Regions from separate parts of the Homo sapiens genome. Here region 1 is linked to region 2. Evidence: fine-mapped expression QTL. A gene starts in region 2. The other region holds a variant in brackets. All regions are shown on one strand. Distances are from middle to middle.

Region 1 (2,897 bases), 980 kb before region 2:
ATTGCCACAAACAGTTCATTCCATCAGTCTTCTGATCTCTATTGTCACAGCTCCTCTGGCCCATGTGGAGTGCACAGAGATGCCAAGACTAAAGGTCAAAGAGAGAGAGACACAGAGAAACAGACAGGCAGAGAGACATGACCGACAACAGAGAGACTGAGTTGGGAGTAGAGAGAGTAGGAGCCAGGCAAAGACCCAAAGAGAGAGGGAGAAAATACCACAAGATGCATAGAAGGAAGTGCAAAGAAAGGAGAAAAGAGAGACAGAGATATACTCACAGCAAGGTGCAGAGACATGGAGACCCTATAAGAGATGGAAATGGAGAGCCACAGAGGGGGAACTGCGGGCACTAAGAGAGACATGGAGAGAACTAGAAAGATAGAGACGTGAACACAGACACAGAGACCCAGAGCCAAAAAGAGACAGAAATGGGGTCATAGGTGGACAGAAATGCACAGAGAGACTGTGAGCCCCCACAGACACAAACGCTGAGAGGGGCAGACATGCAGAGACACCCACAGAAATGCAGAGACAAAACCACCCGGAGACACATGCCGAGAAACACACTGAGGGGCTCAGAAAGCGACAGATGCAGAGAGAGCCCAAGACAGACCCAGCAAGGGGCCCCGAGAAATGCACAGAAACACAAAGACCGAGACCACCAGAGACAGAGGTACGGAGAGGCGGGGAGGGTGAGGAAGCCTGCTCTCCAGGGCTGGCTTGAACCTAGAACTCAAGGTCATGGCTTGGCTGGGAAGCGGGAGGGGGATACCAAAAAAGATCAGCGTTAGATGGAGGTGGGGAGGGAGGGTAGGTTTCACCCTAATTGACACCCCACCCTCCCCCTCCCCCTCCCCACACCTGCTTCCCGGCTTTAGTGCCTGTTGTCACCAGGATGGAATCCTGGCGGCAGACAAAGGGGTGGGGGTGGGAGGAGGAGACAAAAAGATGGACAGAGACAGAGGAGGAGACTAAGAAGTAGAGACAGACACACAGAGACACACAGATGGAGAGCCACAGAGACAACAGAAATGGGGGTCCAGAAAGAGACCTAGATAGAAAGAGGGAACAGAGAGAAGAAAACAGGAAACATTCCTTATAGCCCATGTGTCATTAGTAGGTCCTCCAAGGACCTACTGTGTGCCGGGCATGGGGACGTCAAAGCACAGGGAGCTATAAGGGAGGTAGTTGGAGCACCACGGGAGCCTGGGGTGTGGGGTGGGAGCAGGGGCGGGGCTCCTGGGCCATGCAGATGGGGTT[G/AG]GCATGGGGTTGGGGAGGGGCCCACGGAGGCTTCTGGACTCTGAGTGTGGAGCCAGGGGCAGCAGGGCTGTCTCTGAACTCCCAGGCTTGTGTTTGAGCAAAGGAATTCTCTCCCCCTCCCTCTCCCCTCGGGGCGGGCCCGAGCCTCCAGCTATAAACTCCCCGGAGCTTCAGTGCCCTCAGCAAGGCTCAGCCTCAAGATTCACAGCATCTCAGACACAGCCTAGGTAAGGGGCTCTGCGGAGCCCTGTGGTCTTCAAAAACCATGTCCTTGGGGGAGGGGGCAGGAGGCAGGTGGGGAAGATGTCGGGTGTGGAGAAATGGTGCAGAGGTAGGTGGGGCATACAACTGGAGGTCTGGGAACTTGAGAGGCTCAGACTTTAGGGGGACTCAGGATAGAGGGGAAAATACTAGGATTTGTGGGTTACACAAATCCTAACCCGGGGCTGCCAGGACTTGGATGTCCCAGAATAAAACCTCCTAGGATCTTGGGGTTCTGGGAATCTGGGGGAAATCTCAGCAGTCAGGGATATCTGGACTTGGAGGTCAAACAATCTGGGTGTCAGGATTTGGGGCCTCAGACTCTGAGGGTATCAGGAATTGGGGGGGTCTCAGAAGAAATTGGGGTTTTGGTAGTGGAGGGCTCGGAATCTGAGACATTATGATAGAAAGCATGAAAACTTAGAGTGCCATTATCTGGGGTATCATGAACTGGGCCTCCGAGTTTGGGTATCAAGATTTTGGGGGTCTCATATTCTTGAGGTTTCAGATTTTAGGAGGTCTCAAGACCTGGGGGTGGTCTTAGGATGTCCCGGCCCATATCTGGACTATCAAGAACTGGGATTTCAGAATCCAGAGCTGTGAGGACTTGCTGGCCTCAGAAACACGGGCATCATAAATCGGGGTCTCAGAATCTGTGGGTATTGGGATTTGGGGCTAGGCACCCTGTGGCCTAGGGTGTCTCAAAGACTTTGAGGTCTAAGAATGTAGGGGTCAGGGTGAGGTCTACGGACAGAAGGTGCCCTTTATGCCCCTGCCCCCTACGTGATGTATGGGAAGGTGAAAGGGGAGACAGGTGGGGAGGAAACCAGCCAGTGGGGTGGGGCGAGTGGGAGAGGGGATGCGGGTGACTAATTCTCCCAGAAGCCCCCCTTCCTCAAATCCCTTCTTAGGAAATGTCCTCGGTTTCACCATCTATGACATCCCCCCAAAATAGCTCCTGGGGGTGGGGCAGCTATTGTCTTCAGGCCACTGTCCCTTCTCAAATGCCTCTTCCTAATCCCAACTGGATCAGGTTCCCATGGACTTGTCATAAGACAAAAGAGGACAGCTGTGCTGAGGGGGCAGGGTCTGCAGCCTCCTGGCTGTGCCAGGACCACACCTACCAAGGTCTGTCCTCATGCATGCTTTAGGACAGCCGGCCCCCTCCCTCAGACCCAAGAGTCCAGACCTGAGCCCTCCTCCCTCAGACGCAGGAGTACAGGCCCCCAGCCCGCTCCTCCCTCAGACTCAGGAGTCTAGACTCCCAGCCTCTCCTCCCTTAGATCCAGGAGTCCAGGCCCCAGCTCCTCCTCCCTCAGACCCAGGAGGCCAGGCCCCCAGACCCTCCTCCCTCAGACCCAGGCGTCCAGGCCCGC
Region 2 (2,873 bases):
GCCGGCTGGAGTCAGCCCTGCGGGGGCGGCTGAGCCCAGGGGGCCAGAAGGCCTGGGACTGGGTGCACTGGTTCCTGAAGATGCGCGCCTATGACTACATGTGCATGGGCTTCGTGCTGCTCTCCTTGGCCGACACCCTTCGGTACTGGGCCTCCATCTACTTCTGTATCCACTTCCTGGCCCTGGCAGCCCTGGGGCTGGGGCTGGCTTTAGGTGGGGGCAGCCCCAGCCGGCGGAAGGCAGCATCCCAGCCCACCAGCCTTGCCCCGGAGAAGCTCCGGGAGGAGTAAGCTGTCACGACGCTCCCTCTGCCAGCTGGTCCCGGGAATTCTGTGAACCAGGCTGCTGTCTCCTCCCCAGAAAGAGTCCTTACCTTGGAGAGGGTCCTGGAGAGAATTTCCTCTTCCCCAGCTAAATACCCTGCCTGCAACTGAAGCAGACCCGGGGGTGTCCTCCCTGCCCTCTGCCCAGAGGCCACCTCCACTCCTACAAAATCAAAGTATTGTCCAGACAAGAGTCACTGGCCCCTGCTCCAGCTTCTGGGTATCCAGAGAGCACTGCACTTCCCCAAAACGGAAGGGGCCCCTGGGCAGTGGGTTTTGGGCAAATTCCCTTTCTTTGCATCCACAATGTGGGGTCGGAGCTTGGGGGCAGGTCCTGGGAGTGGGAAGCCTCTTCCTTGTGTCTTTCGCTCCACTTTTAGCTCATCGCACCAATATTGCAGACTTGGAAGGAAGCATAAGCTTCCCATTTCACAAAGGGGAAACTGAGGTGCGGGTGCGCGGGCCTGGGGACGGCCGTCCCATGGCTTCCATCTGAGCCACCTCGGGACCCCAGCACTCCTGGCGCCCTCTTCTCATCGCTTGGCCTATGACAGGTCACCGTGTGTAAATCTTTCCCAATAAAGTGTTGCACAAAGGCATCGTGTCCGTGCAGGTATCTGGGTGATAAACGGTGGGAAGGACTTAGTCCACCAAGTCCCAGGGTGAGGTACAGCCCCCCCGCCCAGCCCAGGAACCAAACTGTGAGGCCCGGGGCACCACGGGGACTTCAGCTCCCAGGAGACCTTTCGCATCAGCGGCCCTGAGAAACCACAGGAAGTGTACCTTACTCCCTCCGGGCCACCTGCTGGCCAGGTACACACCTGCCCCTGGCCCCTCCCTTACCTGGGGCAGTGTCTGCCTGGTGGCCACTAGAGACAGCCCAGCCTGGGGCCATGGAAGAAAACCCGACCTTGGAATCAGAAGCCTGGGGCTCCTCTAGGGAGTGGCTGGCCCCCCGGGAGGCCAGAGGAGGTAGGGAATGCCAGGAGAAGCTCAGATCCATCCGACCTTCAGGCTAGGTGGGAGTCCTGCTGGAGGAGGAAAGGGGAGGCCTGGCCTCCTGAGTCTGAGGGCTAAAGAGAGAAGGTTCCACTTCCTGATATTATGGGGGAGAAGGGAACTGGAGGCTGGAACTCCAGGGTCTGAGGAGGAGGAGCCTGGAGAACCAGGCTAGTCTGGGAGGAGGGGAGGGCTAAGGGCTGGGAGTTTGGGTGTCTTGGGAATAGGAGAGGCTGGGTTCCCACACTCCTGAGCTAGAGGGAAAAGGAAGTTAAAGCCTGGACTCCACTGCCCTGGAGTAGGAGGGTTCCACGCTTGGGGATGGAGTTGAGGGCTGTGGACCCCTGGGTCCAGGGGAAGTAGAGGCTGGCACCCGGACTCCTGGGCCTGAGGGAGGAGGGGCTGGGAACCTGGTTTCCTGGTCTGAGGGAGGAGGGGCTGGGTGCCTGGATTCCTATGTCTGAGGGAGGAGGAGCCGGGGGCCTGGACTCCTGGGTCTGAGGGAGGAGGGGCCGGGGGCCTGTTCTCCTGGGTCTGAGGGAGGAGGAGCCGGGGGCCTGGACTCCTGGGTCTGAGGGAGGAGGCGCCGGGGGCCTGTTCTCCTGGGTCTGAGGGAGGAGGAGCCGGGGGCCTGGACTCCTGGGTCTGAGGGAGGAGGAGCCGGGGGCCTGGACTCCTGGGTCTGAGGGAGGAGGAGCCGGGGGCCTGGACTCCTGGGTCTGAGGGAGGAGGAGCCGGGGGCCTGGACTCCTGGGTCTGAGGGAGGAGGAGCCGGGGGCCTGGACTCCTGGGTCTGAGGGAGGAGGAGCCGGGGGCCTGGACTCCTGGGTCTGAGGGAGGAGGGGCCGGGGACCTGGTTTCCTGGTCTGAGGGAGGAGGAATTAGGGCCCAGACTCCCGGGTCTTCCCAGCCCCCTGCTCCTCCCCAGGCCCATCGCTGTCTTCTGTGCTGAACGAGCTGCCCAGTGCTGCCACCCTTCGGTACCGAGACCCTGGGGTGCTGCCTTGGGGGGCGCTGGAGGAGGAGGAGGAGGATGGAGGAAGGAGCAGAAAGGCCTTCACAGAAGTCACCCAGACAGAGCTGCAGGACCCTCACCCTTCCCGGGAACTGCCCTGGCCCATGCAGGCCAGACGGGCACACAGGTGAGGCCCCACCTCCAGCTGGGACCCGCACAGCCCGGACCGGGCCCTTCTCCCATACCCTGGACTCGGTCTCCTCCCTCTGTCCTCTGCCGCTCCTGGCTTCTGGGGCCTCTCTCTGCCCCGCTCAGAGCTGCCTCTCTTGGTTTCTTTCTTCCCCTCATCTTTGTCTCTACTTCGGACTCCAGGTGAGTGCTGCCTTTCGATGGCTCTGGGGTCTCTTCTCTCTGGGATTTGCCGTCTCCCTGGTCTCCACCAATCCTGTCTCTGCCTCAGTTTCTCTCTGTGTGTGTGTCCAAAATCTGTTAATATTTATTTCTCTCTGCTTTATACCTTCCTTCATCTTTGCCTCCTCTTCCAAGCCTCCCTCTCTTTAACTTCTTTCTTTTCCCATTCTCACTGCATAATTTGC

Evidence for each region. PIP is the estimated chance that this variant, and not a neighbour inherited with it, causes the effect.
Region 1: its variant is fine-mapped to the expression of TMC4 in tibial nerve (GTEx, PIP 0.96).

The regions. Positions count from the first base shown.
Region 1 is chr19:55,147,751-55,150,647 of GRCh38, reverse strand. TNNT1 (troponin T1, slow skeletal type) reads left to right here and starts at 1,442. Exons shown (of 14, transcript NM_003283.6): 1 at 1,442-1,487. The variant G/AG (reference allele first, on the strand shown) is at 1,261.
Region 2 is chr19:54,171,461-54,174,333 of GRCh38, reverse strand. TMC4 (transmembrane channel like 4) reads left to right here and starts at 1,174. Exons shown (of 15, transcript NM_144686.4): 1 at 1,174-1,295; 2 at 2,251-2,464. The coding sequence starts at 1,217. MBOAT7 (membrane bound acylglycerophosphatidylinositol O-acyltransferase MBOAT7) reads left to right here. Exons shown (of 8, transcript NM_024298.5): 8 at 1-919. The coding sequence ends at 290. RefSeq lists enhancers at 1-234, 235-1,051.